3 separate regions of the Homo sapiens genome follow, and regions 1 and 3 are each linked to region 2. Evidence: fine-mapped expression QTL. A gene starts in region 2. Each other region holds a variant in brackets. All regions are shown on one strand. Distances are between the middles of the regions.

Region 1 (8,149 bases), 50 kb after region 2:
AAGTGTGAGGTAAGAACCTGGGGAGGAAGCTGAGTGCAGCCCCTGAGATGGCAGAGCAGCAGCCGCCTTGGCGTGAGCGTTAAGGGATGCACGTGGATGTCTTTGCCATTTCACAATCGCCTACCTGGGCGGGGCGGGGCGGGGCGGGGCGGGGCGGGGCTTTCCCACCCTGGAAGGGAGGAAAGTCATGTCCACCTTCCTACCTGGGGTGTGTCCTAAGGTTAAGACACCCTCGCTCGGCAGGGCACAGTGGCTCACGCCTGTAATCCCAGCACTTTGGGAGGCCAAGGCAGGCGGATCACCTGAGGTCAGGAGTTCGAGACCCGCCTCGCCAACATGGCAAAACCCCGTCTCTACTAAAAATACAAAAATTCAGCCAGGCGTGGTGATGGGCGCCTGTAATCCCAGCTACTTGGGAGGCTGAGGCAGGAGAATTGCTTGAACCTGGAAGATGGAGGTTGCAGTGAGTGGAGATCACACCACTGCAGTCCAGCCTGGGCGACAGAGCGAGACTCCATCTCAAAAAGAAAAAAAAAGAACCAGTCCGGGCTCAGCCACCTGCCTGGCCCAGGCCTTACTTGCTTTGTCCCCCGTGCCCGCCCCCGCATCAGGCATCTGCTGTCACCGTGCGCTTCTACGGCCTTGTGCACTGGGAGGACCCCACAGACGAGTCCCTGGGCCCCACGCCCTGCCACTGCTCACCCCCCGAGGGCACCATCACCAAAGAAGGCATGCTGCACTACAAGGCGGGCACCTCCTACCTGGGCAAGGAACACTGGAAGACGTGCTTCGTGGTGCTCAGGTGGGAGCCCTGGCAGCTCTAGGCCTGGGGCTTGGGCCCTGGGGTGGCTGGGCTGTCAGGTCCCCAGCGGGGATCTCTCCGCAGCAGGTCACTGAGGGAGCAGCCTGAGGAGAGGACGCCTCCCTTCCCTACCAGAGCTTGGAGTTGACTTAGCTCAGGCTGTTAGAGCTTCTCTGTAGAGCCAGTCATCTTTGGGGCCCCAGGAATCCCTGAGTGCCTCAGGGGAGGATGCAGGCTTGGTCCCCCGATGAACCTTGAGCTGCGCCCCAGGTCTGCTGAGGTGGCCACATTCCCTGCTGGGCCCCCAGGCCCTTCTTCACCCTGCCTTCCGTAGATGACAGCCCCTGGTGTCCTTTGCCTCAGGTTCATGGCCGCAGCATGTGCGTGGGAGGGGAACCCTGGGACCTGGGCTCCGCCTGGCCCCAGTTCCTGGGACAGGCCTCACTCGCCCTGTGTTGTGCCCCTGCAGCAACGGGATCCTCTACCAGTACCCGGACCGCACCGACGTCATCCCTCTGCTCTCGGTGAACATGGGGTAAGTGTCCCGGGAGAAGCGGGTGTATCCTGGGGCCCAGAGCTGCCGTTTCCCTGGTTTGAGATGGCTGCCCCTGTTGGCAGTTCAGCCTCGCCCTCAACCCCACCCCATCCAGCGGCCCTGACAGGTGGCCTGGGGCTTCCACGCTCTGAGGGCTGCAAGGAGCCCACAGGAGGGGAGGAGGGAGGCAGCAAGGAGCTCCTGGCTTAGAACAGGTCCAGTCTGATGGGGGAGGCAGGCCCTTCCCCAGAAGCTCCCGGCCTGATGGGAGATGGACGTTCGGGTATTTGGGAGGAACAGCAGGCCCTCAAGAGGAAGCATGCGTGAATGAATGCGGCCGATTCTCAGAGGGCCAGTGGGACAGCTGATTCCCAACCCCTCCTGGCCATGCTTGGGTATCTAGAGGATCTTGGGCATCCTGGAGGTGAAAGGCATCGCACAGCAAGGCGGTGGGTGGGGCTCCCAGACCTCTCCTGGGAGCTGGAGGGGCCTGGAGAACCCTCTGGTATCCTCCAGCCCCCAAGACGGTGGGGCAGACCCTGTGCCGCACACCCCGCACCAACCCTGGGGGCTGTCGCCCCGTGCTGCCCTTGCCTCCTCGCTCCCGTTTCACCCTCCTCCTCTGGCCCAGGGGGGAGCAGTGCGGTGGCTGCCGGAGAGCCAACACCACGGATCGGCCCCACGCCTTCCAGGTCATTCTCTCCGACCGGCCCTGCCTGGAGCTAAGTGCCGAGAGCGAGGCCGAGATGGCCGAGTGGATGCAGCATCTCTGCCAGGCTGTGTCCAAAGGGGTGAGCTTCGCCTGCCCCTACCGCTCACCTGGCTTGCCTGACCCACCCAGACCCCCAGGGTCCCATCCCTAAACCCATAGTCACAGAGCAACCTGAGGGCCAAGACGGACCTCCAGGGGGCAGCCCAGGAATGGACCCTGGAGCTCAGAGGCATCACCCCCATCCCCGCCTCTGCTCCCGATCCCTGGAGGGAGATCCCTGGAGGGAGAGCAGAAGGGCTGGCTGGTCCCCTGGAGTGTGGACTTCTGGTGCAGACCAGCCCTGGAGGCCCCAGCCTGCCTCTCCCCTGCCCCGCTGCCAGGTCATCCCCCAGGGCGTAGCTCCCAGCCCCTGCATACCCTGCTGCCTGGTCCTCACGGATGACCGCCTCTTTACGTGCCATGAGGATTGCCAGACCAGCTTCTTCCGCTCTTTGGGCACAGCCAAGCTGGGCGACATCAGCGCCGTCTCCACCGAGCCGGGCAAGGAGTACTGCGTCTTGGTGAGCTTTGAGTGGGGGCGGGGCTGCAAGGCCTGCAGAAGGAAAGCTCTGGCTGCTCACCCGGGGGCCTGGCTCTCCCTAGGAGTTCTCCCAGGACAGCCAGCAGCTCCTCCCGCCCTGGGTCATCTACCTGAGCTGCACTTCTGAACTGGACCGATTGCTGTCTGCACTGAACTCTGGGTGGAAAACCATCTATCAGGTACCCAGCTGCCCAGGAAACCCATTAGCCAGGGACCCTGTGGAGTGGGAGCCACTCCCCGGGGAGAGGAACCCCTGCTGCTCCCAGGACTTGGCCCTGCCTCCAGGGTCCTGGGCACAGCCATGTACCAGGGCGCTCCTGCCTCAGCCCCGGGGGTGAGTGCCTGCTGCTCTTAAAACAAACCCAGAAGAGTCCTCACTGTCCTTGCCGTCTCTTGCTGCGCACAAGCCTGCCAGGCTGGGAGCCCGAGGCCCTCAAGCCACTCAGCATTGCTGCCTCAAGGGCCTGGGAGGGAAGGGGTGGGCCCTGGGAGGTGGGTGTGGGACTCCAGCCCCGGTGGTTCTGCCTCTGGTTTGGACTGGGCCTTGGGTGATTGAGGGTGGCCTGGCAGGAGAGAGCTGTCTGGGGGCAGAGGCCAAGGTGGGCATGTTGGTGCCAGCCCCAGACTGAGCAGACACACCTGACAGGCACAAAAACTTAGAATCAAAAGGACAAAACCCTGACTCCCAGTGAGTCTGAGGCCAAAGCTGAAAACAGAACCCAAGAAGCTTAATTCCTGACCTCAGTTCCAATCAAACAGCACGAATTGTGGTGGACCTCCAGCTGTGCTCAGATGGGGGGACACAATATTGGCAGTACCCTCTTCCTTGCCCTCCAGGCTGAGTGCCAGTGTGGGAGCGTGCTCATGAGAGCCCTGCACAAGCGGGTTTTGAGCACATGCTACGCTCTAGCCCCGTGGAAGCCTGGACTAGTTAGAGGCAGAGAACAGCTCAGGACAGACACCTCCCTGCAGAGCCAAACAGAGTGCAGCGCCTGCCTCGCTGGGCCATCCTGAGAGCTGGGGCCTTCCCAGGAAAGAGGGAGCTCGGGGGGCACCACCCCATCCTCAGCTCAAGCCCCT[G/A]GAAGAGCGGGAGAAACTAGCAGCGTGGAAGATGTTCCCAGGGAGAGATGGGGAGGGCCTGACAGGGGCTCCGTGGCCAAGGCAGAGGCAGGCCTGGTGCCCACAAGCCCTGAAGACTCCTGTGGCCCTCAGTGGCCCTCATCTGTTCTCTGCACGCCCCAACACAGGTGGACCTCCCCCACACGGCGATCCAGGAAGCCTCCAACAAGAAGAAATTCGAGGATGCCTTGAGCCTCATCCACAGCGCCTGGCAGCGGAGCGACAGTCTCTGCCGCGGCCGAGCCTCCCGAGACCCCTGGTGCTGAGGCAGAGCTGGTTGGCGTCCCTGGTGGGCAGGAAAGGAAGGCACGCCAGCCGGCAGGCACACTGTCACGGCTGTTGTCATGCTGTCGGGAGCCTACAGTCCACCCCTGCCCTGGGCGGCAGAACCACCGAGTGTGGCTTAAGACAGGGTCCCTCCACTCCAGGGATCCAGATCAGGTGCCCGGCACCCCTGGGCATCCTGCCCGACAGGTAGCGAATGGAGGTCGCTGGGGGCAGAGGGTCCGAGCCCTGTGGGCTCTGCGGATGCACGCCCTCCTCCCGGGCCTCCGCCTCAGTCTGCAGAATTTCTGCCGAGTGGCACCGAGAACACCATCCATCTAAGGACGAACAAAAGAACCAGGAGGGCGGGACCCCCCTCTTCCTCTCCTGGGTTGGGGGCTGGGGCCCTGAGTGCCCAGCCATCCTTGTTCGTGTTTGAACACTCTCCTGGCCACGTGGGGAAGCGGGAACACGGGGTGTCTGCGCATGTTTCCTCCTCCTAGCTCCATCACTGCGCACACAGCTGCCTGCCTCGCCAGATGCAGGGGGGCGGGCAGCCCTCCCTGGCTGCCAGGAGGCTCTGCATGCCCACAGTCCTGCCCTGCCTGTCCCCTCAACCCGGCAGTGCCTGTAGCACCGAGGAGCAAAGGGGGTGGATGGGGGGCTTGGAGAAGGGCGGAGCCCACCAGCCTGGCATCCATGTTGACATCTTCTGACTGTCCCCTGCTTGGCTGGAGCCAGGCCCTTCCCTAGAGTTTCGTCAAGAGCCTCCTGGGGAAGGGGTCAGGTGGTTTGGGTTTTGTTTTTTAAAATAAAATAGACATGTTATATTGCCAAGGCTTGTCACTGGCCCTTTTTGAGCAGGGTAGGGGAAGGGAGCTCTCCAAATCCCTTGGGCCCTTTTCTGCAAACCTTCCTCCATCATCTGCCCTGTGCCTGACACAAGGGACACACGGGACATGCAGAACCAGATCAGCCACCGCTGCCGGGCGGACTCACCGTCTGCAGACCCTCAGGCCCTGGGAGTTTCTCGGCCCGACCTTTGCCCTCCGTCCTGTTCCTGTTTGCTGCAGCAGCCAGGGGAGGAGCAGCCACCAGCTCAAGCCCCAGGGCACGTCTGCACCGCCGCCCACCATCTGCAGCCCACCCCGGGGCAGGACGCTCCTGCCTCCACAGCCCCGGGGGTGAGTGCCCAAACCCAGGAGAATCCAAGCTGTCCTCGCTGCCTCTTGCTGCGCCGTCCCCTCCAGGGCTGGCCAGAGGGTGACAACCCTGCCAGGCCGGGAGCCTGAGGCCCTCAAGCCACTCAGCATTGCTGCCTCAAGGGCCTGGGAGGGAAGGGGTGGGCCCTGGGAGGTGGGTGTGGGACTCCAACTTGGGTGGTTCTGCCTCTAGTTTGGACTGGGCCTTGGGTGACTGAGGGTGGCCTGGCAGGAGAGAGCTGTCTGGGGGCAGAGGCCAAGGTGGGCATGTTGGTACCGGCCCCAGCCTGAGCAGACACACCTGACAGCTGGCCCAGGTGGCGTTCTCTTCTCAGCGGGCACAAAGGGCATCCCAGGGCAGGCCTGGCAGCAAGTCCTTACCAGCCAAGGTCACTCCTCAAGTCCTACTCACCCAGGTGCCCTGAAGTCCTGGGAGCAGCGAGGGGGGCATAGGAGCCAGAGGCAGTGGGGGTGGGGGCGAGCAGGCGATGCGGGTGCCTTTATCGGGTGCAGCACTGACCTAGGCACACTCTTCTCATCGCCAGTCCTCCACAGAACCTTCTGGAGTGGATGTCAGTATCTCCATTTTACAAATGAGAGAAACTGAAGCTCTGAGAGGAAGTGACTTGCCCAGGGGTCACACATGAGAGCCACACCTGGGATTCCAATCAGCTCCCCAGGGCTCCAGAGCCCTTCTCTACTTCTGACCCTGCTGAGCATGGGCCTATAGACGGTGGGAGCCAGACTGAAGACTTGAGTCCTGGAAAGGGGAAGTCAGTCACCAGGGGCATATCAGGGGCAGGGTGGGGCAGGGGCGGAGTTGGCCGTGTACCCCATGCCAGGGACCTCCCAGTCACTTGCCCCCTGCCTAGGGCTCTGCCAAAGCTGGACAGGCTAAGCCAGAGGCAAGGCAGGGGTGCCAGCCCTTTGCCCAGGGCCAGAGGGAGGCCAGGAGGAGGTGCCTGGGCTGGTTGGCACCTTCTCCCTATCCACGCTCTCCCTCCAGTCCCAAGTGACCTTTCCCCCAGATCCCAGGGTCCAGGCCCGCCCTCGGCTGGCAGGTGTGGGCACAGAGGCAGCTGGGATTGGTCGCAGCTGGCGGAGGCGCGTCCCAGGCTCCGGCAGACCGCTGGAACAGCTGAGCAGAGCAGGTGGACTGCTGAGATAGACCAGGGACACCAGGCAGCCACAGGCCTGTCAGACCAGGACCCTTACCCTCTAGACATGGCCTCGGTCCCCTGCAAACCCCAGCCCCGTAGCCCTGCGAGGTTACAGACAGCCTAAACGCCACCACCACAGGGCCTGTGCCGTGCCCCTGACCCGGGCACAGAAGGCCACTGGCCCGGAGGCCATGGAGACGGTGCCCCCAGCAGTGGACCTGGTGCTGGGTGCTTCTGCCTGCTGCCTGGCCTGTGTCTTCACCAACCCCCTGGAGGTGGTGAAGACGCGGCTGCAGCTGCAGGGGGAGCTGCAGGCCCGGGGCACCTACCCACGGCCCTACCATGGCTTCATAGCCTCTGTCGCTGCTGTGGCCCGAGCAGACGGGCTGTGGGGCCTGCAGAAGGGGCTGGCTGCCGGCCTTCTGTACCAAGGCCTCATGAATGGCGTTCGTTTCTACTGCTACAGCCTGGCGTGCCAGGCTGGCCTCACGCAGCAACCAGGTGGCACCGTGGTTGCGGGAGCCGTGGCGGGGGCACTGGGAGCCTTCGTGGGGAGCCCTGCTTACCTGGTGAGTGGCTTGTCTCCATCGTCCACCCTCCACCATCCCATGACCCAGCTCCCACAGGGGCCCTGCAGCCTCCAAAGGCAGGGCTCAGTGGACCTGGGTGGGGTGGGGCAGCCGGGGTGGGGCTGCTCCCTGGAACATCCTAGCCCAAGCCTGGAATCTGCCCCTTGGCCCAGGGCCTTGCTCTGATCCATGCTCCCCTGCGGTCCCTGCCCCACTGGTCCTGAGCCAGGGGAGGGGGCAGAGGGTGTCAGATGTGCTGGCTCAAATCCTGGCTTGGTTACTTCTCTTCCCGCATGGCCTCATGTACGATAAGAATAAAAGCTACCCTTGAGGGCCTCCGCCTCGTGTGCACTCTGCAGGGGGGCCTCAGGGCCACCCAAAACAAATAAAAAATTAAAAAATGTTTTGAAGAAAGCTACCCTTGGCTGGGTGCAGTGGCTCACGCCTGTAATCCCAGCACTTTGGGAGGCCGAGGCGGGCAGATCACCTGAGGTCAGGAGTTTGAGACCAGCATGGTCAACATGGTGAAACCCTGTCTCTGCTAAAAAGTACAAAAATTAGCTGGGCGTGGTGATGCATGCCTGTAATCCCAGCTACCGGGGAGGCTGAGGCAGGAGAATCACTTGAGCCCAGTTGGCAGAGCTTGCAGTGAGCCAAGATCATGGCACTGTACTTCAGCCTGGGCAACACAGCAAGACTCTGCCTCAAAAAAAAAAAAAGGAAAGAAAGAAAAAAAAAGCTCCCCTTGAGCAAAGGCTCGCCTTGCCCTTGGCTGGTGCTGGAGGATCATTGTCTCACTTAATCCTCAGAACAGCTTTCCAACCGTGACAGAATTGAGGCCCAGAAAAGGTTAAGTAACTTGCTCCAAGTCACACTGAGACGCAAAACCCAGGCCAACCCCAGAGCTGCACCTCAACCCTATTTCACTTGACCCCTAAGCTTCAGGCTCGGGACCATGGAGCTGTGAGTTTCAGGGGCACGGGGGCAGGGCGCCCTCAACACACACAGCTCACCCTGGCTCTCCCAGGCTCCATCCCCACACCCGTGTCCTCTCTGCTCCCATAGATCAAAACGCAGCTGCAAGCTCAGACAGTGGCCGCAGTGGCCGTGGGACACCAGCACAATCACCAGGTGAGGCCTGCCACTCTCAGAGCTCCCTGGGGGCATGGATTGGGCATGCTCCCAGCCTAGGCAGGGGTGGCCAGT
Region 2 (8,174 bases):
GCCAGAGAAAAGAGTATGGACTGTATTCTAAATGCTATGACAGTAGGCAGAGGCTGCAGTCAGCTGAGAACACGCCACTGCGCTCCAGCCTGGGTGACAGAGCGAGACTCTGTCTCAGAAAACAACAGGCTGGGCGCGGTGACTCACACCTGTAATCCCAGCACTTTAGGAGGCTGAGGCAGGTGGATCATGAGGTCAAGAGCTCGAGACCAGCCTGGCCAAGATGGTGAAACCCCAACTCTACTAAAAATACAAAAATTAGCCAGGTGCAGTGGCAGGAATCTGTAATCCCAGCTACTTGGGAAACTGAGGCAGGAGACTCACTTGAACCCGGGGGGGGCGGAGGTTGCAGTGAGCCAAGATGGAGCCACTGCACTCCAGCCTGGGCGACAGAGTAAAACTCCATCTCAAAAAACAACAACAACAAAAAATAAGAATAGAATCATTTTTCCTGGGTCACTGATTTGGAAATTAAGGCAAAGTGACTTGCCTGAGGCCCTAGCATGAGTCAGTTGAGGCTTTTAATTCTTGTTGCCTTTTGACTCAGAGTCCCATGCACTTCTCATGAGATCAGAAAAGTCTTGTGCAATAAATGAATGAGCTTCAATTTCCAGCTTAAGTGACTCCCAATAACAAATAAGTATCTTGTGTTTTTCAGAGTCACCCTTTTTTTTTTGGTTTGCTTTTTGGGGTTTTTTAAGAGGTGAAGTCTTGCTCTGTCACCCAGGCTGGAGTGCAGCCACATGAGCTCAAGAGATCCTCCCTCTTCAGCCTCCAAAGCAGCTGAGGCTATAGACATGCACCACCATGCCCGGCTCGCCCTGTGTTTGACACGCAGAACGGATTCCATATTTGAACTCTGGACAAGGAGCAATTAGCTGCACATCAATGCACATTTGGCCTCTCCCTCTTTCCTGCAAGAAGTGTTGTTAGATAACAATGTCTGTTGTACCAGCTCACATACCTATGCAAACCTTAGGAATTTGGTAGACAGTGAGACCTTACATTCCTCTGAATGTTGTAAAATGCTGAATGTGACCATCTCCCAATACATGCAGATAAAAACAATATGGCAGAAATGCCACCACCTTCTTATGTCACAGACCAAGTGGACGCCCCAGGCATACAGCCAAGGAATAAAAATACCCACTGAGTGTACCATGTGCCCAAGCCATGATCAGCCATTCCTAGGGAGGAGGTGCCCAGCAGAACGCAGTGCTCAGCAGAAGATGGCCTGCTATTCAACAGCAGAGAAGAATCCCAAAGCTTGTTGGGTCAGTTTTGGGGGACTGCATTTTCATGAACCAGAGCTGCATCCAGCAGGTTGGGGCCTGTATGCACCCTAGCCAGGATGGAGTGGGAAGGAAGTGCGCAATTCTGACTCCACAAACACCTTTGGTAAGTAGGAGGCTATTTCTACTCATAGATACCTGGCTATTTATTTCCTCATTCAAAGTAATGTGTCCTCTGTCCTCAACCTTTTCTCTACCTATCCAGTGACTGGAGTCTCAACCCTCATCTGTTCTTATTCTGCTCTCTGAATATGAGAGGTAGATAACAACTCCAAAGAGGCTGTTATCTCTTGCTTTCCTGAACTCAGTACAAATAAGAAAACGCCCTGGGCTGGACATGATGGCTCATGCCCGTAATCCCAGCCCTTTGGGAGGCTGAGGTAAGAGGATGGCCTGAGCTCAGGAGTTCAAGACCAGCCTGGGTAACAGAGCGAGGCCCTGTCTCTACAAAAAATAAAATTCGCTGGGCGTATTTTATTCTGTACTCTCAGCTACTGGGGAGGCTGACGTGGGAGGATCCCCCAGGGAGTTCAAGCTACAGTGAGCTATGATCACACCCACCACTGCACTCCAGCCTGGGTGACAGAGTGAGACCCTGTCTTTAAAAAATAATTTAAGGCCAAGGCGGGCAGATCACCTGAGGTCAGGAGTTCAAGACCAGCCTGGCCAACATGGCGAAACCCCGTCTCTACTAAAAATACAAAAAAATTAGCTGGGCGTGGTGGCAGGCGCCCGTAATCCCAGCTACTGGGGAGGCTGAGACAGGAGAATCACTTGAACCTGGGAGGAGGAAGTTGCAGTGAGCTGAAATTGTGCCACCGCACTCCGGCCTGGGTGACAGAGCGAGACTCCGCCTCAAAAAAAAAAAAAAAAATTAGCTGGGCATGGTGTCACATGCACTTGTAGTCCCAGCTACTCGGGAGGCTGAGGCAGGAGAATCGCTTAAAGCTGGGAAGCGGAAGTTGCAGTGAGCAGAGATCGCACCACCGCATTCCAGCCTGGGGAACAGAGCAAGGCTCTGTCTCAAAAACAAACAAAACAAAACAAAACAAAAAAAACAAAAAACAAAGTACCACTATTTTGGGTCTCTCCTTGGGAAACTAAGGGGCTGGGGAGCGACCTTTGGAGGCTTGTGGGGTCCCTCTGAGATAAGCAATGAATCAGTATTTCAGATGCTAAGGGGACTTCAGGGATGGGGTGGCCTGAGCAGAGAAGAGGGAAGACCAGGGAACCAGAGTTGAGAACTGGGGTGTCTGAGAATAAAAAGGAGGGACTAATCTATGTGTCAGGATATATTTATTTGGGAACTTAAGGAGGGAAGAGAGCCAGGTAGGAGACTGACACCTCTAAGTGCAGGGGCTTTATGAGATGGTGGATTTGAGGAGGGTGTGTGGGAAGAGAGTTGTTACGGTGGGTTTCAGGGGCTGAGGGAGTTGAGGCCCTTGGGATACGTGGGGCTGAAGAAGAGGGATAAGGATAAGGAGTGGGAATGGGGCATTGGGGCTGAAGGTGAGGAGGGTGTGTTTTGGGGGTGGGGAGGAACACCAGGGACCTCAAATGTAGGACTGGGCCTTGAGGGTGAGGCACTGAGGAGGGGAGGCTGTGGAGGGCCAGGGGGCCCAGGGAGGGTCTAGGGCTGGGGACTGGAGTCTAGGCTGACCCGGTGGGGGTGCTGGGTCCTCCAGGCTGCGAAAGCCAGGGGGCCTGGGTCTGCACATTGAGGGGGTGGCTGGGCTAAGGAAGGGGAGGAAGATAAGTGGGGCTTGCAGGCTAAGAGGGTCTTGGGGTCCCTGGCCAGAGTTAGTGGGGTGCACTGGGGTCTCCAAGGAGGGGTCTGTGGACTAAAGAGGGCCGGCGGGAGGGGGCCCAGGGTCTGTGGGTGTCTCGAGTCTCTGAGGAGGGCCGGGGTCTCAGGGTCTGTGGGGGTCTCTGGCCTGTGGGGTCGGAGTCTCCAGAGTCCTTGGGGCCTGTGGGAGTCTCTGGGGTTTTGTGGGGGGATCCTGTGGGCTGAGGAGGGCTGTGGGGAGGGTCTCAGGGTCTCTGGGGAGGGCCAGTGCCTCGGGGTCTTTGGGGGTCTCTGAGGAGGGCTGGGGGCCCAGGGTCTGTGGGGGTCCCCAGCAGGTGGGGTTGGGGTCTCCGGAGTCCCTGGAGTCTGAGGGTGTCTCTGAGGTCCCAGGGGGGAGTCTATGGCCTGAGGGCTGAGGGGGAGGGTCTCCAGGGTCTCTGAGGAGGGCCGGTGTCCCGGGCAGGCGGGGTCGGGGTCTCCGGAGTTCCTGGGGTCTGAGGGTGTCTCTGGGGTCCCTGAGGGAATCTGTGGGCTGACGAGGCCTGGGGGAGGGTCTCCGAGGAGGGCCGGGGTCCCAGGGTCTGTGGGGGTCTCTGGCAGGCGGGGTCGGGGTGTCCGGAGTCCCTGGGGTCTGAGGGTGTCTCTGGGGTCCCTGAAGGAATCTGTGGGCTGAGGAGGGCTTGGGGAGGGTCTCTGAGGAGCCCCGAGGTCCCCGGCAGGCGGGGTCGAGGTCTCTGGCGTCCCTGGGGTCTGAGGGTGTCTCTGGGGTGCCGGGGAGAGTCTGTGACTTGAGGAGGGCTGGGGGCGGGTCTCGGGGTCTCTGGGGAGGGCCGCGGCCAAGGGTCTGTGCGGGTCTCCGGGTCCCCGGAGTCCCCAGGCGCAGGCGGGCCCTGGCGCCGCCCCGCCTGACATCAGTTCCTGCCGCCGCCGCCGCCGCGGCGCACAGCCCGCGGCCTCCTTCCCCGCCGGCCGCGCTCCGGAGCCTCCGGGCCGCGGTGGAGCGAGGGCCCAGGCGAGGCGAGGGCCGGGCGGCGGGCGCCGGGCCCCGCGGCCGGCACGACGGAGCCCCCGTACGGCCGGCGGCAGCGGTTGGCGGCGGCCCCCGGCCCCCGGCGCGGGAAGCGGCGGCGGGGCGGCGGCGGCGGTGGCGGTGGCGGTGGCGGCGACGGTGGCAGCGCCATGGAGCCGGGGGAGGTGAAGGACCGGATCCTGGAGAACATCTCGCTGTCGGTGAAGAAGGTGAGCGCGGCCTCCCTCCCGGCCGGGGCCCCTTCCTCGCCGCGCCCCCCACGCCCTCCGGCGGCGCTCTCCCGGGCCGGGGCCCCCCGCCCTTCCCCTCCGCGACCCGGGGGGCGACGAGCGGCCGGGAGCCCCGGGCCGGTAGAGGGGAAGCGGCGCCGCTCACGTGAGCGCCGCGGCCTCGGAGCTATTTTTAAAGAACAAAGTTGAGGTCAGCATCCTCGGAGCTTCCCCAAACCTGGCCCGGGGCCCTGCCCTCCCGGAGAGGGGTCAGCGACCCTCCGGTCCCCCACTGGGGCAGCGGCGCCCCCGGGAGCTCCTGAAGGAACCCCATGCAGCCTCCTGTGGAATCCGCTGCATCCCCGGGTCCCCCCGCCAGGCTGGCGTCGCCCAGGGTCTGGCAGTCAGGGTGGAGGCCAGTGATAAGCAACTTCACTTTCCCATGGCCTGGGTCCCGGCGACATTGCCTCTGCTCCTGGGAAGTCCCCTGAATAATCTTGCTCAAGGATGGTAGCTTTGAAGAGGTTCACTAGGGGCTTTGATTATAAGAACCTGAAGTACATGGGGATTGCATTTTGGATGCTGATCCGGGGAACCGGGTGACACCACAGACACCTTGCTGTGGGGCTTGCCGCAGTAAACATCACTGTCCCAATTCCAGGTAGAAATGAGTACATACCTGTCAAGGGCATGTATTTGTGATGAAGTTGGCATATCCGCAAAAGGGTCCGTGCTAGAAGGTAGAATCCATATTCTGACGTTTTTGGGCTGGATATAAAAATAATAATAATAAATTTAAAAGAATCCATATTCACTGAAAACCTAAATGGCCAAATCAGAATGGATTTTTCTCTCTCTCTCCCTCTCTGTGTGTGTGTTTGTGTAATTTGAATTCCTGGCTCACCAGATAGTCTCAGAAACTGAAAAAAAAAAAAAAAAAAAGAAAGAAAGAAAGAAAAAAGAGAAAGAAAATGGCTTGGGTGAGGGACTCAGCAGCTTATTTTACTTGAAGAAGCAAAATGGATAGAATTAATTAGATCAACCATCATATTTAAATAATTGTCTGTTTTCCCACTGAGATTCCTCAAAAGCAACACAGGCAAGCTATTTTACCTTTCATAAAGATAAATGTGACTTAAAAAGAAAATAGATTCTCGAATTGCCCTTACTGAAAACATTCCTCTAAAAGCACAGCTAAAGTAACATTGCAGAGATCCAACAAGAGTTTTACGTAGTTTTACTGAGCTTTGCTAATGTAATGGGGTATGGTTTTTGCTTACTCAAGGAGGGCAGGATGAGCAAATACTTTGTTGAGAAGCAGTACATCTTTCCTAATGGAAGAGAAAGGAACACAGGTGACCTTTCTAATCTAATCTGGGCTGATTGTGGCTTTAGGTAGGCCCGGCGTTTGTCTTTGGATTTCAAACAAATGAATGGAGAAAGTCTGTGATGGAGAGGCAGTAGACATGGGGCACGCTGTCACATGTATAAGCATGAGTCTTTTGAAGGCAGAGATTCACTTTGTAAGTCAGGCTGTCACTTATGAGTTAGGTGTGTTTGTTGAGGTGCATATAATTGTAGGTGTTTGGACAAGGACACTTATTGAGCTGGAATGCACCCCAGAAAATGTCACACTAGAAACTGCAAACCCATCCCTGGGTGTATCACAACCAAAGCCATGGGCAGCATCATTGTTAGGAGCATGGATTCTGGAGTCCAGCTGCCTGATTGAATCCCCGCCCTGCCAAATTAATAACCCTGTAACCTTGGTCAGGCTTATTAACCTCTCCATGCCCAGTTTCTTCATCTGTAAAGCAGGGATAAAATTAGGGATGTTGTGGAGTGTTTTTTTGTTGTTGTTGTTGTTGTTGTTTGTTTTTGAGACAGAGTCTTGCTCTGTTGCCTGGGCTGGAGGGCAGTGGTGTGATCTCGGCTCACTACAACCTCCACCTCCCAGGTTCAAGCGATTCTTCTGCCTCGGCCTCTCGAGTAGCTGGGATTACAGGTGTGCGCCACCACACCCGGCTAAATTTTTTTTTTTTTTTTTTGAGACGGAGTCTCGCTCTGTCGCCCAGGTTAGAATGCAGTGGCCTGATCTCCGCTCAGTGCAAGCTCCGCCTCATGGGTTCACACCATTCTCCTGCCTCAGCCTCCCAAGTAGCTGGGACTATAAGCGCCGGCCACCACGCCCGGCTAATTTTTTTGTATTTTTAGTAGAGACGGGGTTTCACCATGTTAACCAGGGATGGTCTCGATCTCCTCACCTTGTGATCTGCCCGCTTCGGCCTCCCAAAGTGCTGGGATTACAGGCGTGAGCCACGGCGCCCAGCGTCTAATTTTTGTATTTTTAGTGGAGATGGGGTTTCCCCATGTTGGCCAGGCTGGTCTTGAACTCCTGACCTCAAGTGATCTGCCTGCCTTGGCCCCCCGAAGTGCTGGGATTACAGGCATGAGCCACCGTGCCCGACTACTTTTTGTATTTTTTGTAGAGATGGGATTTCGCCCATATTGGTCAGGCTGTGTTATGAAGATTTTGTTTGTTTGTTTTTTGTTTTTTGTTTTTTTTGAGATGGAGTCTTGCTCTGTCACCCAGGCTGGAGTGCAGTGGCGTGATCTCAGCTCGCTGCAAGCTCCGTCTCTCAGGTTCACGCCATTCTCCTGCCTCAGCCTCCCGAGTAGCTGGGACTACAGGTTACAGGCGCCCGCCACTATGCCCGGCTAATTTTTTTGTATTTTTAGTAGAGACGGGGTTTCACCGTGTTAGCCAGGATGGTCTCGATCTCCTGACCTCATGATCCGCTCACCTCGGCCTCCCAAAGTGCTGGGATTACAGGCATGGTGAAGTTTTAATAAACATGTAGAGTGTTTAGCATGGATCCTGGCCCAGTCTTAACTGGTAGCTTTTTTCTTTGTGCAAGAGCCCATTCCTCAATTTTACAAGGTTTGAAGATGGCTCAACTGCCTCACCACCTAAAGGTCGTTCTACAACACCATTTGTTCTTGGTAGCCACTTCCTTTGTGTGTTTGTTTGAGACAACTGCGATGTGATTCTTGCATCATAAATTACATTTGGTTTTCTGAATCAGAGTGTCTGCTTTACTAGGAACCTGTTAGTTTGGCTACAGCAGTAGACATTGAGGACAGCAGTCTTGGGGTCAGATTTGTCCTTGAATGCCAGTCTCACCTAAATGTGTTATATAGCACCTTGAGAGTTGCTTTGCCTTTTTTCTTGCATCCTACCACCAGTAAATGGTCTTACTGGTCATTTTATAAGGATTTTACGTGAAGAAAATGAGATGCATATTTCTGCAAGGAAAGATCCATTGTGTATTTCTATATTTGCAAAGAGTACTTTAGAACTTTTTATGAAAATGAAGCATGCCTACAGGAAAGTGTACAGGTCCTGAGCGGACAGCTTAATGAGTTCTCACAAAGTGAAAACACCTGCATATCCAGCACCCTGACCAAGAAACAGAACATGACCATTATCCCAGAGGGCCCCTCGTTCCCCTCCCAGAAACTACACCCTCAAAGCAACCACTATCCCCAAGGAGTATTGTTGAGTTCAACTATTTTCACACTTAGATTTTGTGATGGTGAATACCCATTATAACACCAGACAGGTGAAACAGCTGTTAATCCATCTGAATCCAAGGCAACCTGTGTTCTGATATGGACACAGAATTCCTGAGGGTGAGAGAGAACTGGAGAGTTTAATAATTAACATGATTAAATGAAAATGATAACAATAGGCCAGGCATGGTGGCTCACGCCTGTAATCCCAGCACTTTGGGAGGCCAAGGTGGATGGATAACTTGAGGCCAGAAGTTCAAGACCAGCCTTGCCAACATGGTGAA
Region 3 (8,174 bases), 44 kb before region 2:
CCAAAGTGCTGGGATTATAGGCATGAGCTGCTGTGCCAGGCCTTAGTGGACTTTCTATAAATGGGCAGATAGTAAATATTTTAGTCTTTGCAAACCATACAATCTGTGTTGCTCATGTTCAGCTCCGCCACTGCCATGTGAAAGCAGCCATAGACAATAGGACAATATGTAAATGCACTATATCACTGTGTTTCCATAAAACTTTTTTTGCCTAAACAGCAGGCTATGATTTACCAACCCTGGATTTACAGTGTAGGTTATCCCAAATCTTAGAAGCTGTTCTGTTAGTGTCTCAGTCTTCAGGTAAGTTGCCCAACCGCTGACCTAGTTTCCATTAATGTTGGTAGTATTTGATAATGTTTTTAAAAGGAGATTGATTCATGCTGTTTTAAGGGAGTAGAAAAAAATTGGGAATAAACATGAGATGTTGGAGTAAGCAAGAACTCCCTTTTGTTGCTTTTCTCGTGTAAGAATTAGAGTTGTGTTGATTTTTTTGTTTTCTTTTCCTTCCTTTTGGTGGGGAGAGATGGGGTTTCACCATGTTGCCCGGGCTGGTTTGAAACTCCTGAGCTCAAACTCCTGAGCTCAAGGGATCCACCTACTTTGGCCTTCCAAAGAAAGTGCTGGGACTACAGGTGTGAACCACTGCACCTGGCATGTTGATTTTTTTTGTTTTTGGTGTCTCGCTCTGTCGCTCAGGCTGGAGTGTAGTCGTGCGATCTTGGCTGCAACCTCCGCCCCCCGGGTTCAAGCAGTTCTACTGCCTCAGCCTCCTGAGTAGCTGGGATTACAGGTGCATGCCACCATGCCCGGCTAGTTTTTGTATTATTAGTAGAGATGGGGTTTCACCATGTTGGCCAGACTGGTCTTGAACTCCTGACCTCCGGTGATCCACCCGCCTTGGCCTCCCAAAGTGTTGGGATTACAGGCGTGAGCCACCGTGTGCGGCCAGCATGTTGAATTTTTAAACAAATTATTTCATGGATCAAATGAACTATGAAACACATGTAGTTTTAAGTGATGGGTGCAATTTTTTTGTAGCATAAGCTGTTATATGAGCACTGTATACTAGATGCTTTGTACCTCTTGGCAACCTAGGTAACAGTTATCCTTAGTGTACAGATTAGAAAACCCAGTCCTGGAGATGAAGCAGCAGATGCAGCACAAGACGTTGAAATATTTGTGTTTTCTGTTTGTGAACTTTTTGTAATGTTCTGGGCTTAGGAAATGTATTCAGATACCCAGTAAATCCTCAGTTAAAATTGGAACATTCCCGAAATTCTAACATTCTGCCAGAAAAATGGGGTTGTAACCCTTGCTCTCCAGTTTCTTATTTCTGAGCATAGAAAGGCGGCTTAGTGTTTTACAAAGGGTAATTTTTATGCCTTTAGATTTTCTGCCAGCTGTTCATCTTACTGCCTCTTTGGAAATGATCTCTTGCCCCATATAGCACCAATTTTTCTATGACTCGGCTGCTGTGCTTGGGGCAAAAGATATGTACAAATCTGTTTTTTAATATTGTGACTTTGAAACTGATTTCTCTCCATGGAATTAATGCTTTCAGTGTCCCTGGTCTTGTTCTGTTACAGGCAACAGAACATTGAGGAAAACATGACAATAGCTATGGAAGAGGCTCCGGAAAGTTTTGGCCAAGTAGTGATGCTTTATATTAACTGCAAAGTGAATGGACATCCTGTGAAAGCCTTTGTTGACTCAGGTGACGTCTCTGTCTTTTATTTCTTGGTCTCCCCTCCAACATCTTTACCTGACACGGGAGAAGGGGAGGCTCAAGCATCCGTTCAGATGGCTGTACTTTTTTTTTTTTTTTTTTTTTTGAGACAGAGTCTTGCTCTGTCACCCAGGCCAAAGTGCAGTGGCGTGATCTTGGCTCACTGCAACCTCTGTCTCCTCAGTTCAAGCGATTCTCCAGCCTCGGCCTCCCACGTAGCTGGGATTACAGGCGCCAACCACCACGCCCAGCTGATTTTTACATTTTTAGTAGAGATGGGGTTTCACCGTGTTGGTCAGGCTGGTCTTGAACTCCTGACCTCAAGTGATCCACCGTGCCTGGCCCAGATGGCTGTAGTTCTTTAGGCTGCTAACTCACTAGCGTGGGACTTACTGTTTCACTTGCGAGGCATTCTGTTGGTATTAGGTTTCTTTCTTTAATCATTTCTTAACCAGTTTTGTATTTTGTGGTGTCTCCTTTTTCTTCCTAACTCCCCTTATCTAGCATCCTGAATTTCTTGGATGTTTCTGTAAAAAACTGGGAATACATAGGTTTAGAAGAAGGAGCTATAAAAGGAGCTGTGTAGAGTATAGGTCAAACACATTTCAGCCTGGCCTGTGCACCAGCACTTTGCCAAGATTTGGGAGGAGTGTAAGGCTATCTGGGTATGGTTCTTACCCTTAAAGAACTTAACAACCAAGTAAGGAGACAGGGATTCTTCTGCTTGAGGGTTCAGTTAATTCACATACTAGTTGGCACCTTTTCTGTCAGTAACAACCGTTTGCTTTTTAGTAAGACTACACCATGCAGCATTTTGTGGGTGTATGACTGAGTGGTCTCATACATCTTAATTCTGGGTTGTCTCACTCAAGGCTGTAAGATAGGTGAGTTCCTAGAGTAGAAAAATTCCTTGCTCAAATAATATTTTCCCCCTTCACTGTGTATTTCTATATAAAAAGAAAAAAAGTATTTTCTTTCATTTGTTCATCTACACATTCCTGAGCACATGCTGGGTTTCAGCTCTCTCTCTCTCATTTTTTAAAGAGAGGGTCTCTGTCACCCAGGCTAGAGTGCAGTGGTGCAGTCAGCTCACTTCAGCCTCCAACTCCTGGGCTCAAGTGATCCTCCAGCCTCAGCCTCTCAAGTAGCTGGAACCACAGGCATGTGCAACCATACCTGGCTGATTTTTTAACTTTTTGTAGAGACAGGGTTCCCCTGTATTGTGTAGGCTGATTGGGAACTCCTGGCCTCAACTCTCATTAAGAGTTTGTACCTTGAGACTGGGTGTAGTGGCTCATACCTGTAATTCCAGCATTTTGGGAGGGTGAGGTGGGAGAATTGCTTGAGCCCAGGAGTTTTGAGACCAGCCTAGGCAACATGGGGAAACCTCGCCTCTACAAAAAATACAAAAATTAGCCGGGTGTGGTGGTGCGTACCTATAGTCCCAGCTACGGGGGAGGCTGAGGTGGGAAGATCACCTGAGCCTGTGGTGACGGCAGAGGTCAGGGCTTGCAGTGAGCTGTGATTGTGCCACTGTGCCCCAGCCTGGGTGAGTGAGACCCTGCCTTCGGGGGAAAAAAAAAAAAGAGTTTGTATCTTGAGATACAGACATTCCTGGGAGTTTAAAAAAAAACTGAAATTATTCAGTTTAAAAAATATCTGTTGTGGGTAGGGCCTTGTGCTGAGTGCTTGGTGATAAGACTTAGTGACTGGAGCCTCAGAGGTCCCCGTGTGAGTGAGAGACAAATACATAGAAGACGCTAATAGAATACTCAGTGTGTATTGATTCCTTATTGTGTGCCAAGCACCATGCTAGGTGCTTAATATAATCATCTTACTCAATTTTATTTCATCCTCAGAATATCTCTATGTACTTTGTTCTATAATTCCTGTTTTATCCATAAGAAAACTTAGATATAGAGAGGTCACATTCTCTACTCTGTCTTTTACACATAAGGAAACTTAGAGGGATCAAGTCACGCTTCCAGGTATACAGAGTTCGTGAGTGGTGGGCTTTGGATTCAGCCCCAGGTCCCCTTGATGCCAGAAATCTCAACCACTGTGCAAAAATCAGGTGAATGTTGGATGGCTGTAGAGACCACATTCTCACTCTGACCGAGGTGCTCAGGAGAGTCTTTCCAGAAGACAGCATTTGAGCTGAGGCTTTGGAAAATGCAGGAGAGCAGTGAAAGGGGCCCTTCTCATCCTGGGTTGCTTACTTTAATAACTTGGCTTTTGTAAATTAAGAAGGAGGAAGAAAAGAGAGAATTGCCTTTCCAAATTCCCTTTTCCTTCATTATTTCTGGGCCTTTTTGAATCTAATCTTTCTCAAATGCCAAGAACTTTTATTACTTATAAAGTGTAGGGTACCTGTGAGTAATATGAGCAGGAAGTGTTGGAATTGAGTGAGAGGCGAGGTCAT[T/G]GCAAAAGGGCAGTCAGTTAGGGAGGAAGTGGGTCTTGAGCTAGATCTTGAAGCATCGGTGGAATTCAGGAAAAAAAGCAGGGCAGGGACCATTTTACAGGAGGGTCAAAGTGAGTGAATGGCAAAGGGGACATATTCCTCCTGCTGAAGCAGAGGGTTTAGAGTAGTTAGAATGTACGGCTGGAAAGAAATGGTGGAGCCAGGATGGGGTGGGATCTGAAGCTGTGGTGATGGTGGTTTGAAACTAATCTCATAAGGAGTGGAAACCATTGAGGACTTTTAAGCAGATGAAGAAGTAAGTGATTTGAAAATGGTGCTATTGGCCCAGTGCAGTGGCTCAAACCTGTAATCCCAGCACGTTGGGAGGCTGAGGCGGGTAGACCATTTGAGGTCAGGAGTTCAAGACCAGCCTGGCCAACATGGTGAAACCCCATGTCTATTAAAAACACAAAATCAGCCAGGCATGATGGTGGCACACCTGTAATCCCAGCTACTTAGGAGGCTGAGGCAGGACAATAGCCTGAACCTGGGAGGCAGAGATTGCAGTGGGCTGAGATCACATTACTGCACTCCAGCCTGGGCAACAGAGCAAGACTGTGTTTCCAAAAAAAAAAAAAGTGACATTTTAGGAAAACTAAAGGTAGACACAGATCTGGAAAATTCTGTACCCCTAAGGGTCACAACAATATCCTTGCTTTAAATTACGCATCCACGGAGTGGTTTGGAAGCCAGAACAATTGTCCTTTTGCAAGGGAATGGCAGTGTGAGCCAGGCTGATCACTATGGTTAGAAGAAAGAGCATCAGGACAGGCACAGTGGCTCAAACCTGTAATCCCAGCACTTTGGGAGGCCAAGGCAGGTGGATCACCTGAGGTCAGGAGTTCAAGACCAGCCTGGCCAACATGCTGAAGCCCCATCTCTACTAAAAATACAAAAAATAGCCGGGCATGGTGGCACTTGCATGTAATCCCAGCTACTCGGGAGGCTGAGGCAGGAGAATCGCTTGAACCCAGGAGGTGGAGCTTGCAGTGAGCCGAGATTGCACCATTACACTCCAGCCTGGGCAACAAGAGTGAAATTCAGTCTCAAAAAAAAAAAAAAAAAAAAAGGAGAAGAAAGGGCATCAGAAATAGCAGAAATTGCATAGACCTTATTTACAGGTTTGAGAGAAGAAAGACTAGGAGAAGAGTCAAAAGTGAACAGTGCCCAGGTTTTATGGCTGCAAGAAAATAATCCCATTGGCAAACACAGAGAAATCCAAAGTGAGAATTATTTGGGGAGAAAGAGTTTTATGCCTGTTGGCTTTGACAGAAATGTCCAGTGCACAAGAATGTAGAACTAGAGTTTCAGGGAGAAATTAGGACTGTAAAGATTACAGAAGCGACTGTCTTCTACATAGGCCAACCCGCCGTGTACATGTTTCTGGGAGAGAAAATAACCTAAGTGCCCTCATATTTAAAGGGAAGAGAGTCTGATTGTTGGAGCAGAGTATGGGAGTCCACTTCTAAATTTTGGAAGACTGCATGATTTATTAATAGTAGACTATAGTGTCCCAGTGTGGGGTTTTTGTTTTTAATTTTACTTTTTGAGCAGATAAAGTAGTAAATAATGTACTTACTTGTTTACATAGTGAGACGGGATATTGCTATGTTGCCCAAGCTGGTTTTCCACTCCTTGGCTCAGGTGATCCTCCCGTCTTGGCCTCCTGAAGTACGATTACAGGCATGAGCCACTACACCCAGCCCAAAATTTGATATAAAAACAACTTGATAGGGCCAGACACTGTGGCTCACACCTGTAATCCCAACACTTTGGGAAGCTGAGGTGGGCAGATCACTTGAGGTGAGGAGTTCCAGACCAGCCTGGCCAACGTGGTAAAACCCCATCTCTACTAAAAATACAAAAATTAGCTGGACGTGCCGGGTGCAGTGGCTCACGCCTGTAATCCCAGCACTTTGGGAGGCCGAGGCAGGTGGATCACGAAGTCAGGAGATCGAGACCATCCTGGCTAACACAGTGAAACCCCACCTCTACTAAAAATACAAAAAATTAGCCGGGTGTGGTGGTGGGCAACTGTAGTCGCAGCTACTTGGGAGGCTGAGGCAGGAGAATGGTGTGAACCCGGGAGGTGGAGCTTGTAGTGAGCTGAGACTGCGCCACTGCACTTCAGCCTGGGCGACAGAGCGAGACTGTCTCAACAACAAAAAAAAAAACATTAGCTGGACATGATGGCGCAAGCCTGTCAATCCCAGGTACTCAGGAGGCTGACGCAGGAGAATCGTTTGAAGCCAGGAGGCGACGGCTTAGAGATACTCGGTAAGAAGTGCAAAGTACTGCTAATTTAGCATTGCCATCTGTAGACGCAGGACATCACTGCTTTCTACTGGTAAAGTCTTAAAATGTCATTTAATTATTGCATCGCTACAGAATATTCTTCCCTCAATGTCAAATTGTACATCATGTTTCAGATTACAGAGTAGAACTGAAAGTTGAATTAGGCAGGCAGGGCACTTGCTAGGTAGAAATGAGTTTATAGAGACCAAAGCCTTGGGGTGTGCTTGGTTTTCGCTTTGTTATTATTTAGTGCTATATTTTGAGTCTTCTCACAAAGTGGATTTTGTTTTTATTGTCTGATGTTTCTCTACTCCTCCAGGTGCCCAGATGACTATCATGAGCCAAGCTTGTGCAGAAAGGTGTAACATAATGAGACTGGTGGACCGTCGGTGGGCAGGGATTGCCAAAGGAGTGGGCACCCAGAAGATTATTGGAAGGGTACATCTAGGTGAGCAAAAGGCACTGGGGCTTGCTGTCTTTCTGTAGGCTATTTGTAGGTAGGGTAGTCGATTTTCAAGTTTTTAGAGGGTCTTTTGTTGTTATTTTGTTGTTGTTGTTTTAAATTTCTTTTGTGTGGGTATGTCTGAGCTAGCAAGCCTAATTTCTAGAAGTTTTAAATCCTGTGTTCCGTCAAAGTTATGTGTTTCTGCTGGTTGCAAACAAGTAGTCTCCTCTACGTTTCTATTTCCTGAAAATATAATCCCTTTCCGTCATTTTAGCTGATTTATTTTTATACTTACCTCCATATTTCTAAATAACATGTTTATTTTGCTGTTTACTCATATGACTGTGTTTGAGAGCTGAGCTATCTAATTGAATGTGATTGCTTTTCTTTCATGGCTAGTATTATTTTCTCTTAGAATTAATAATTGTCCTGTTTTTCTTACTTGGTTTCTTGCGTAGTATTCATCCCAGACATTTCCTAATTATGTAAATCTCCCTTCAAGCACATCCAATAGCCTCTACATTTCATCCTATCAAAGATACTTCTTGAGCCTGGACTGGCAGTTTCAGGCCTGCTTCAGAGCTGCTGTTTTGGAATTTAACTTGACTGAGTCCTACAGATTCCTTTCTCTTCTGTCTTGTGTTGGATTACATGAATCCCTTGTCTTCCTCTTTTTTATCTGCCCCTCAGTTTATTGGAGTGCATCATCCAGTAACTTTCTTAGAAGAGGTGCATGGGAGTAAATTGAGACTAATTATCAGACATGTCTTTTTTCCCTACATTATACTGGTCTGCCTAGGTTGGAAATCATTTTCCTTCACAATTTCGAGGCATTGCCCCTTAACCTTTTCACTGTCAGTGTTGCTGTAGTGAGGCTGGATTCTGTTCCGATTCTTGATCCTTTATGTGAAAGTTTTCTTTTTCTTTTCAGTTTTTTTTGTTTTTTTTTTTTTTTTTTTTTTTTGAGACGGAGTCTCACTCTGTCGCCCAGGCTGGAGTGCAGTGGCGCTATCTCGGCTCACTGCAAGCTCCGCCTCCTGGGTTCACACCATTCTCCTACCTCAGCCTCCTGAGTAGCTGGGACTACAGGCGCCCGCCACCGCACCCGGCTAATTTTTTGTATTTTTAGTAGAGACGGGGTTTCACCGTGTTAGCCAGGGTGGTCTCCATCTCCTGACCTCGTGATCCGCCCGCCTCGGCCTCCCAAAGTGCTGGGATTACAGGCGTGAGCCACCGCTCCCGGC

What was found. PIP is the estimated chance that this variant, and not a neighbour inherited with it, causes the effect.
Region 1: its variant is fine-mapped to the expression of PLEKHM2 in whole blood (TOPMed, PIP above 0.99).
Region 3: its variant is fine-mapped to the expression of PLEKHM2 in whole blood (TOPMed, PIP above 0.99).

Annotation. Positions count from the first base shown.
Region 1 is chr1:15,729,921-15,738,069 of GRCh38, forward strand. PLEKHM2 (pleckstrin homology and RUN domain containing M2) reads left to right here. Exons shown (of 20, transcript NM_015164.4): 14 at 1-9; 15 at 612-802; 16 at 1,272-1,337; 17 at 1,969-2,128; 18 at 2,430-2,609; 19 at 2,692-2,808; 20 at 3,877-4,849. The coding sequence ends at 4,014. SLC25A34 (solute carrier family 25 member 34) reads left to right here and starts at 6,338. Exons shown (of 5, transcript NM_207348.3): 1 at 6,338-6,943; 2 at 8,009-8,074. The coding sequence starts at 6,566. RefSeq lists enhancers at 4,672-5,437, 5,438-6,204. The variant G/A (reference allele first, on the strand shown) is at 3,710.
Region 2 is chr1:15,680,302-15,688,475 of GRCh38, forward strand. It overlaps PLEKHM2 (pleckstrin homology and RUN domain containing M2), which reads left to right and starts at 4,019. Exons shown (of 20, transcript NM_015164.4): 1 at 4,019-4,317. The coding sequence starts at 4,258. RefSeq lists enhancers at 1-83, 4,943-5,002 and silencers at 3,873-3,952, 4,043-4,122, 4,643-4,712.
Region 3 is chr1:15,636,718-15,644,891 of GRCh38, forward strand. It overlaps DDI2 (DDI proteasomal shuttling factor 2), which reads left to right. Exons shown (of 10, transcript NM_032341.5): 5 at 1,590-1,717; 6 at 6,805-6,933. Among named protein-coding and RNA genes, the nearest start is that of RSC1A1, 19 kb to the right of the region's middle. The variant T/G (reference allele first, on the strand shown) is at 4,152.